Regions from separate parts of the Homo sapiens genome. Here all the other regions are reported to be linked to region 2. Evidence: microRNA targets listed by miRTarBase, many of them from high-throughput screens and not tested one by one. Region 2 holds a microRNA gene; each other region holds the end of a gene's coding sequence.

What was found. Region 2 holds the annotated microRNA hsa-miR-6509-5p (AUUAGGUAGUGGCAGUGGAAC, at 1,194-1,214, opposite strand). A microRNA usually pairs through its seed, bases 2 to 8, with sites in the 3' UTR of a target mRNA and lowers its output. Matches are read on the target gene's strand: a 7mer-m8 pairs with bases 2 to 8, a 7mer-A1 pairs with bases 2 to 7 and ends in A, and an 8mer does both.
Region 1: miRTarBase lists HOXC8 as a target of hsa-miR-6509-5p. Seed matches in the 3' UTR shown: 7mer-m8 at 1,958-1,964 and 8mer at 1,801-1,808.
Region 3: the mRNA of MYCN is a reported target of hsa-miR-6509-5p. Seed matches in the 3' UTR shown: 7mer-m8 at 748-754.

Annotation. Positions count from the first base shown.
Region 1 is chr12:54,010,799-54,014,054 of GRCh38, reverse strand. HOXC8 (homeobox C8) reads right to left here. Exons shown (of 2, transcript NM_022658.4): 2 at 1,286-2,966. The coding sequence ends at 2,674. Among named protein-coding and RNA genes, the nearest start is that of HOXC8, 3.4 kb to the right of the region's middle.
Region 2 is chr7:135,205,851-135,209,106 of GRCh38, forward strand. MIR6509 (microRNA 6509) reads right to left here and starts at 1,228; the gene lies at 1,144-1,228. It overlaps WDR91 (WD repeat domain 91), which reads right to left. Exons shown (of 15, transcript NM_014149.4): 3 at 2,941-3,148; 4 at 1,270-1,352; 5 at 78-208. RefSeq lists a silencer at 1,060-1,219 and an enhancer at 3,009-3,256.
Region 3 is chr2:15,945,837-15,949,060 of GRCh38, forward strand. MYCN (MYCN proto-oncogene, bHLH transcription factor) reads left to right here. Exons shown (of 3, transcript NM_005378.6): 3 at 1-1,168. The coding sequence ends at 261. Among named protein-coding and RNA genes, the nearest start is that of MYCNOS, 5.8 kb to the left of the region's middle.

The DNA.
Region 1 (3,256 bases), not on the chromosome of region 2:
GAGAGAGAGAGAGAGAGAGAGAGAGAGAGAGAGAGAGAGAGAGAGAGAGAAAGAAGAGAAGAGAAGAGAAGAGAAGAGAAGAGAAGAGAAGAGAAGAGAAGAGAAGAGAAAAAGAAAGAAAGAAAATCTGGCCTCAAAAATATTTCAGCCTTCGGGGGTCTGGTTTTTAAGACCAGAAGATCCCTCCCCTCCCTTTTCCCCTCTCCTGACTGAGTCAGAAGACTTGTATCTCTGGAATTTGGGATTATTTGACCAGAATCTTATTGGCATAAACAGAATTTTTAAGTCCAGGACTCTCCAGAGAGAAGTGAGAGACCCTTCTACCCCCTGGGTCCCTGAGCCTTCAATTCTTCATTTTGGGGAATGAAGATACCAATAAAGACGCCCTCTTACCCCGCTGTGACTGGGGTGGCAGGATGTCCACTCAGCAGGCCCATCCTCCAGGCCAATGGCCCACACTATGGGGGCTGGGTAAGCTGACCAATTGCCAAGGTGAAGTGGGGAGTGGACTTTAAACCGTCTGAACAGAAGTTGGAGTGGATGCAAGCGGGCTGAATGACAGTGATGACAATCTTCCTGTGCAGAGGATTGAATGTGAATTTCAGGATGTGGGCTCAGGCTGGTTGCCTACGAGCTCACTTACTTTCCCCTTCCTTTCTCCTCTCCTTCAGGCTTAAGCTTCCTCACCCTCCATTCTTAGCATCCCCCATCTTCAGGCAAGCCCTGCAGACAGGCCAGCCAGTTGCCCTGAGCCTCACACATCCCCACCCGGTTCATTATTCTAGTGCTGGGTGCTGGGTGCTAAGGTCTGGCCACAAGGGGCATGCGGAGATCAGAAGGAATCCCACTATCTCATCCTCAGCCCCAGACCCTGGAAGAAAAAGTCATAGTTGCATAGGGCAGATTCTTTGTCTGGGCCCAGCCCAAGGCTGAGGAGGAGGAGGGTGGATGAGTGAGGAAATCTTTCTTCCCATTGGGATCCTGGCGTCTGGAAACCCACTTTGTTTGGAGCCAAGATTCCCCCAAGGGCATACCTATAGACTCCTTACTCTCTCAACCAATGGACTGCTCCTTTTCTTCCTCCTCTCAACCCCTCACCCCTTTCACCTGCCCTCCCAGGCCAGCATGCTTTCTCAATTCCCAGGCTTCTCTCCACGTGAGTTTCTGAACCCCAAAGCCAGAGCAGTGAAGCAGACCTTTTCCAGAGAGTTGGACAGGGGGATAAGGAGAGAGAAGGTAGAGAATAGGGAAGAGCTGTGGAGAAAAAGCAAGTCATTCCAGCTTCTATTATTTTTCTTCTTCTTTTTATTATTATGACTCACGTATACAATACAAAGTACTTGGACCAGGAACAGGGCTGTCGGGACACAAAATCTACATTCATAGCTGGACATAAAGACAAATGACAAAAAATTATTATTATAGATATATTTTTAACATTTTTTTCTTTCGAGCACATTGCATAAACAGAGAATTCAAGACAGAGTTAACTATACATTCAGTGCAATTTAGTTCTACTCTACTGGGGTTAGAAGCACAATAAAAGCGCACAGGACCGGCGGGCTAGGCAGTCTCAGTTGTTGGGTTTTCTTAGTGAAATAAGCAGCAACAAACGACAACAAAACCGCATTACAAATACTCTCAAAGCAGGATTTCTTTCTATAGGTAGTGATAAAATACGCTGGAGGTTTCTTTCTTTCTTTTTTTTTTTTTTGATTTTTATTTTTTTCTCTTTTTTTCTCCTATAGCAGGATTTTAAAATTTTTCTCTTTTTCTTTTTCAAGATTATTGCAGGTTCCCTTTAGGTAGTATGTTAAAGATTTATTATTATTATTTTCGTGATTATGGTGATTTCTGAGCACTAACACTAATGCAGCTCAGAGGAAGGCGGGCCCAACAGAATAGAAATCAAACAGCGAAGGAGAGGAAGGCATGGGCCCGAGTGACCATGGGATGGTTAGGTAGGATTTTAGAGGCGACTGCAGGCTCCTATCTACCCTTCTGGAAATGGGGGGAGGGGAAAGACCCACATCTCCTTCAGGTTTCCATCAGGTTCCTAGAGAAAGTCAAGGGGGTTTTTCTAAGCAGGGAGCCCTGGGGAGGGGGAGGGGGAGGGGGAGGGGATATTCCTTGCTTTTTTCCTTATTTCTTTACATTTGTCTTCCTTTCCTTTCTTCATTTTTTTCTGTCCTTTCCTTTTTAGAAAAAGTACATCTAGTACACTAGCCTTAGCATAAAAACAAAACCACAAGTCCTTTTCTGCATTTCGAGGGGGCTCCCCTCTAAAATAAATACCAGAGAAGCAGGGAGGTGGGAGTGTGGTGAGAGACAGACCGAGGAGCACGGAGGCCAGGTCTCAGACCTTAAAATCCAGGAAGGACTCAGAAGGGTGGGGGCAGGGACAAGTGTGTGTGGGGCAAGGAGTGAGACAGAGAGTCCGAACTTTTCACTGTTTCTCCGTCTCCCCCCTCCAGCCCCCAAACAAATAAAGAGTGGGGGAAGTCCAAAGGTAATAAAACCAGAGCTGCAAGTATCTGACAGGTAGTTAGAGTTGTGAGTGTCATTCTATTCTCTATAAAAGCAAATGACAGTCGTAAACTTCTCAATTTATCTGCTACCATAAAACGAAACTTCAAGGGAGTTGCTAAGGGGGGGGGGGTCTTTCTTTTTTGCTTAGTCCTTGTTTTCTTCCTTTTCCTCCTCTTCTTTCTCCTCTTCCTCATTTCCTTCTTCCTCCACCTTCTCCTCATCTCGGGCTCCCGGCAGTTTATCCTTGTTGTTCTCCTTTTTCCACTTCATCCTTCGGTTCTGGAACCAGATCTTCACTTGTCTCTCGGTCAGTCCCAGGGCATGAGAGACTTCAATCCGACGTTTTCGTGTCAAATAAGGATTAAAGAGAAACTCCTTTTCTAGTTCCAAGGTCTGATACCGGCTGTAAGTTTGCCGTCCACTGCGCCTCCCCGGAGCTGGACAGAAGAAAACCCCAGTCTGGTTACGTTTGGATGGGGGCTTGGTTTTCCTTTGCCACTCTTCCTACTCTAAACTCCCCTCTCTGATCTCCTCAGTTCGCCTCCCCTCTATGGAAAAGGCTAGAGCAGAAGGCAGACAAGGGCAGAAAAGTTGGGGGATTGTTTTTGTTTGGCTTCACCTTGGGAGGTGGGGTGGGGGTGGGGGCTAGGGTCTGTTTGGAAACTGGGGCCTTTCAGGGGCTGGGGAGCCCTGTAGAATCCCCCCCACCAGGCCTGTAATCCTAGGA
Region 2 (3,256 bases):
AAGGCAAGATCAGAGGGAACTGTGGGGCTGAGAGCACAGAGGGCAAAGAAAAGGAAAGGGCCGTCACACACACTCACAGTTCCGAGTCCCCCAGGCGGTCCATGTTGGAGACATAAGGAGGCAATTTGTGTTGGACCAAGGCCTCTTCCTCTTCTGGCTGTTGCTCCTCTTTCTTCAGTCGGTGGATTTCAGCTTGCAATGCAAAAAGCTATACAGGGGTGGGACTGAGTTAGCCAATGATCTCACCTAACCTTCCCTCTGCGGAGGAAGATTTCTAGACACATCGCATCCAAGCCCACTGGTCTGAGTGCCACTCGCCTCAGCGTCAAGGGGCCCATCTCACTCTGCTCACTGCAGACTGGGAAAAGTGACTGCTGTCACTGGACAACAATGAGGTGAGAAAACCAAAAACCATTAGAAATCCAAAACCCATTTTCTTTTTAATCATTTGACTTGCTTCCTCCTAGATTCACTGAGAAAAATAGCTCCACCCAACCTGTTTTGCTTTTTAGAATCTACAAAATCAGGCTTTAGAACTCTCAAAGCCTGACTCTGGAATGGAAAAAAAAAAAAAACCTGTTAATGAACTACAGCGTTTTTAACCTTTTGCCTGAAGAAAATTACATATACACACACCCCAAATCCCAAGAATCTTAAACCCCATAACCTAAACAGCCTATAATCTTCCTTTTCCTAACAATATCACCTAAGGAGATCTTAATTTCAGGAAAGAGAAATGTTCCTCAGGCAACATGTACAGGCAAATGTGGGTCCCCTGGCTCTATTGTTTTATCAAACTAGAGAAGCATATAGCTGAGTAGGAACAACTAAATTATATATGGGTTATAAACTATATATATGTGTGTGTGTGTATATATAGTTTATATATATACATATAGTTTACATATATATGTGTATATATATATACACACATATATAGCTATACGTGGAAAGACAAAACAGACACATGAAAACAGGTTAGTTATAAGGTGGCATGGATGCATATAGTCTTTTTCTCCTTAAAAGTTAATTACTGTTACTATATTGTTCATGCTACATATCTGACTTAAAATATGAATCTCGCCTCTGGTTTTCAGAGACTGTTACTCTCCAAATCCCCAATACTGACTTTCTGGTGACTCATTTCCATCTGAGAAATTAGGTAGTGGCAGTGGAAACCTGATTAATATAGTGTTCCACTGCCACTACCTAATTTCACACACAAAAAGCAGAAGTACTTCCTCAGGAGCAAGCCTGTTCAGAACAAACCTTCTGACGCAGAACTTCATTTTCTTCTTGAACCTGGTTAGTCCTCTGACACTCCGCATCAAAGTTCAGGATCACAGGGACTGGTGCACGAAGTTAAAGAATAAGCCAGCCCCTGAAATGTTTAAACGTCCTTCCCAAACCCTTGACACACCAGTAAAACACATGAGACACAGGGACACAGAGAACAGAGTATAGGAGCGGTGCTGTGGGCTCTTGCGGGCTTAATGAAATAGTCGCTCCCTACAGTCTTGTCTCTAAGACTTTCTCTAGGTCTGGCCTCATTTCATTCGGACAGATTCACAGACGCATGACCATCTGCCTGGCCAGCCCACAGAGGGGACATAAATCCAAACCTAAGCATTTTCTCTCAAATACCAGAAGCAAAGAGCTAGCATCCAGTGGACTTCACAGCCAGTCTGAGCTTTAGTGAGGTCACTACATTCAGCTAAAAGCAGCCCTGGAGGCCAGTGGCTCTGCAGTAATACAGCCAATGAGGCAGAAAAGACCAGTCAGTTGGCTTCGCCTCCCCAGGTTGAGCCTCTCCCTGGCAAAGGTTTGGACTGAGAAGAGAAAGCTTTCTGCAGATTGCGTGGCCACCCCAAGAACAACGACAGTCTATAGCTTGGGATACTGGTCCTTCTCCACTGCCTCAGGCAGCTTCAGTTAGGAGGAGCACAGAGCAGACAGGGCCTCAGAACTGGAGAGGGGACTAGAGCCCATATGTGTGTAAGCTAGTTTGAGAAGCACTGAAAAGATCTTGAGTGACAGTTTCGATTTCACTGGAGGGCCCACAAAGTTAACTGGAGAGCCCTCAGGATGAAGAGAGGGAACAACGGGGAAGAAACAAGGCAGTTCTGGCAAGGGTGGAATTCACACTCATCTGGGGCACAGAAAGGGTGAAGGCAGGAAAGGTGCCCTTCCCACCTCCACCAGAAAGTGTTCCTCCCAGAGGCCAAAACGCCTGCCCATGGGTGGGCCTCTAAACACCCAAGTTTATCAGTGCCTCACCAGCCAGCCCCATTCAAGCCAGACTCCCTTCTCCTCCTCTAAATTTCCAGCCTAGGGAGCATGAACAATGGCCTTGGGAGCTCTGGCTTGTACACTTGGTAGGCTGTAAATTATTTACCTGCATTCTCATTCATTCCCCCTCTCCAATACCCGCATATATATTCTTAAAGCTACTGTGTTCTCTGGCAACTTGAGGAACACTGAAGTTACTATTAGAGACAATAACCCAAACACTAACACAGACAGAAGTTCCAACCCAAGAAGTCTTCTCATCTGTACCTAATCCCAGCAAAGGTATATCCCCGGGAACACGTTTCATGCACAGAGAGGGTACTCTCAAGGCTGCCCGGTTTCTCCAAGCAGCAGCTGCCTTCCAACCCCAGTGCCTGCTGACAAAGCCAGTACTAGCACCCCACTGCTGCCACTGTCACTGCCCACACGTCAGCTAATACTTCAGCAGCACAGTGTCAGAACTAAGATTTATGATTCCCTGGCTTACTGACAAAAACAACCACAATTTGTCCAGCCCCCTCATGTGACCCATAAAAATGGTCCCTGGGCATTTTTGTAGAAGAAATGCCTGTATGGAGACCAGCGGGCTACTGATCCTGAGGTCTGGGTGCCTCAGGCTGGGCCTTCAGCCCCAGGCAACTGAAAGGATATGCATGCACTGAAACAGGACGCTCAGGAAGTTGTGCAGGGACACAATGAAGGTGTCAGCCCACTGTCGAGAAAAGTAGGTAGCAAAGGTGGGGTTGGTGTCCGGGGATGGCAGGAAGGGCAGGACAAACCAATCCTTCCACTCAGCCTGGTTCTGGAGTTCCGTGGCCTGCTTTGCAAAGAACTCCTGAGCCTTGTCATTTCTGTTTGTCTGCCAAGACACAAGGAGGTAGCAAGGAGGGAGGAGAGACAGAAATCCAGAGGTAAGACTCTTCATCATTGCACAGCAGACAACCTTTGACTATCAGCCTGCCAGGTA
Region 3 (3,224 bases), not on the chromosome of region 2:
GACAGTGAGCGTCGCAGAAACCACAACATCCTGGAGCGCCAGCGCCGCAACGACCTTCGGTCCAGCTTTCTCACGCTCAGGGACCACGTGCCGGAGTTGGTAAAGAATGAGAAGGCCGCCAAGGTGGTCATTTTGAAAAAGGCCACTGAGTATGTCCACTCCCTCCAGGCCGAGGAGCACCAGCTTTTGCTGGAAAAGGAAAAATTGCAGGCAAGACAGCAGCAGTTGCTAAAGAAAATTGAACACGCTCGGACTTGCTAGACGCTTCTCAAAACTGGACAGTCACTGCCACTTTGCACATTTTGATTTTTTTTTTAAACAAACATTGTGTTGACATTAAGAATGTTGGTTTACTTTCAAATCGGTCCCCTGTCGAGTTCGGCTCTGGGTGGGCAGTAGGACCACCAGTGTGGGGTTCTGCTGGGACCTTGGAGAGCCTGCATCCCAGGATGCTGGGTGGCCCTGCAGCCTCCTCCACCTCACCTCCATGACAGCGCTAAACGTTGGTGACGGTTGGGAGCCTCTGGGGCTGTTGAAGTCACCTTGTGTGTTCCAAGTTTCCAAACAACAGAAAGTCATTCCTTCTTTTTAAAATGGTGCTTAAGTTCCAGCAGATGCCACATAAGGGGTTTGCCATTTGATACCCCTGGGGAACATTTCTGTAAATACCATTGACACATCCGCCTTTTGTATACATCCTGGGTAATGAGAGGTGGCTTTTGCGGCCAGTATTAGACTGGAAGTTCATACCTAAGTACTGTAATAATACCTCAATGTTTGAGGAGCATGTTTTGTATACAAATATATTGTTAATCTCTGTTATGTACTGTACTAATTCTTACACTGCCTGTATACTTTAGTATGACGCTGATACATAACTAAATTTGATACTTATATTTTCGTATGAAAATGAGTTGTGAAAGTTTTGAGTAGATATTACTTTATCACTTTTTGAACTAAGAAACTTTTGTAAAGAAATTTACTATATATATATGCCTTTTTCCTAGCCTGTTTCTTCCTGTTAATGTATTTGTTCATGTTTGGTGCATAGAACTGGGTAAATGCAAAGTTCTGTGTTTAATTTCTTCAAAATGTATATATTTAGTGCTGCATCTTATAGCACTTTGAAATACCTCATGTTTATGAAAATAAATAGCTTAAAATTAAATGATGCAACTCAACCTTTTCCTTAATGGCATTACACTCTGTCCCTTAAGGAGCAACCATAAATAATCCATAACCTATAGAGGGAATTTGGTTTCCGTAAATAGCCCTTTTTGCACCTGTACAATCCTGGTTGGGGGGCATGAGTCATTGTCCCCACTTAAGGTGGAGGGAACTGAGTTTGGGGAAATTAAGGCAGTTCTCCAAGATTATGCAGAATAGAGATGTTATTAGCGACTATTGTGTGCATTGTAGCAATGGCATTTGATAATTTACAGAGCACTTCTGTATACTGTGGCTCCTTAGTGGAATTAAGCTGAGACCTCAGATCAGTCCCTTTAAAAGAAAAGTAAAAATAGCCACAGGGTTGTTTAACTCGCTTGTATTGGGCTTTGGTAGTATTCGTCCCATTGGCAGACAGTCTTCTATTTTAAGGTAGAGCATAGTTTGTCTCCAAGAATTCATTGTTAAAAACATTCACTAGGATCTGTGGAGGTTCTAGGCTAAGCAGAGTAAGCAGAATAAACAGATGGAAATGGGTTCCTCCCTTCAATGAACTCAACCTGATTCACCAAAGTGTAATTCACGAGTGACAGTTACGTAGTCCAGAGCAAGTACCAGGTGCAGGAGAGACCCTGGGGTCACAATGGAGACCCCATATGGGTGGCATGGCTCTCTACTTGCCATTCCTATTACACAGCAGTGTCTTGGCTACTTGGGCTGCCCTTTGGAAATGGGATCAATCTTGCAGGCTCCAGAAGACAGAGCCAAGACTTGTGTGTTAAGGAGATAGTTTACCTGTTGGGACATAAGAGCCTTGCTTGTAAGCAGCTTCTCAGAACTAAAAGTGTACAAATAACCTATTTCTCTTTTGAGTGTCAGGTTGTACTCGGTTATTTCTCTAGGGTTTTGTTCATCTCAGATTTTTAACTGTGAGCCGAAAAAAAAGAAAAAGGCCTTTTGCTTCACTGAGAAGAAAGCAGGTCCAGAGATGAGACAGCTTTGCTTGCCTGGACACACAGTTTGTCAGGGGCAGAGATGGGAGACACCAAGCCATGTGTCCTTGTCTGCTTTGGTCATTTTTATTTGTTTCTTTTGAGATGGAGTCTCACTCTGGTGCCCAGGCTAGAGTGCAGTGGTGCAATCTCGGCTCACTGCAACTTCCGCCTCCCGGGTTCAAGCGATTCTCCTGCCTCAGCCTCCTGAGTAGCTGGGACTACAGGTGTGTGCCACCATGCCCGGCTAATTTTTTGCAGTTTTAGTAGAGACCAAGTTTCACCATGTTAGCCAGGATGGTCTCGATCTCCTGACCTTGTGATCCACCTACCTCGACCTCCCAAAGTTCTGGAATTGCAGGCGTGAACCACCATGCCCAGCCGCTTTGGTCATTTTATAAAGGCAAGTAGGAGTTTAGAACTCAGTCCTCCTTATCCTGCTTATCGCACACCCTTGAGATACGAGGTTGGTGATACTACCATGGACATCTTTCTGATGGTCTCGCCATGTAGAAAATAAGATAAAATGCCCTTTAATTCTCCTAGTCCCCATCCCCAGACTAAAAAATAATGCACCCTTTCTTTTTGAATTGTCATTCAAAAAACTTCCGTTCGTTTGCATTTTACAGGCCCCAAATCACTCACGGCCTCTGCCCCTGTGTGTGTGCAAGAGCCAAAAGAAAGTTAAGCAACCTCACATTAATTGTGTACCTAAGATTCTTGAAGCCCAGCTCAGTCATCCCAGTTTCTCTATTTGTGATTACCATAAGGAACCTACCTGAGTGTGTCCAATGAAATGGAATGCTTAACCGTGAAGAAAGAAAACTGTTCATATGAATGAGGCCACTAAACTACAATTCCTACTATGCTCTCTTTTTGCTCGGGCTGCTGGGAAGCTCAGAGCCAAATTCCACCCCCTCTAACATCTCCAGTGGTCATTCTCTTCTAAATGTTTACGGTTTCTTGTTTTCCATTGTTAGGTTAGTCATCTTTTTAATGTATATAATGTAGTATATAACATGAAACGTTTTTGCATTAGGTGGACCACAAATATGCACCTAAAGG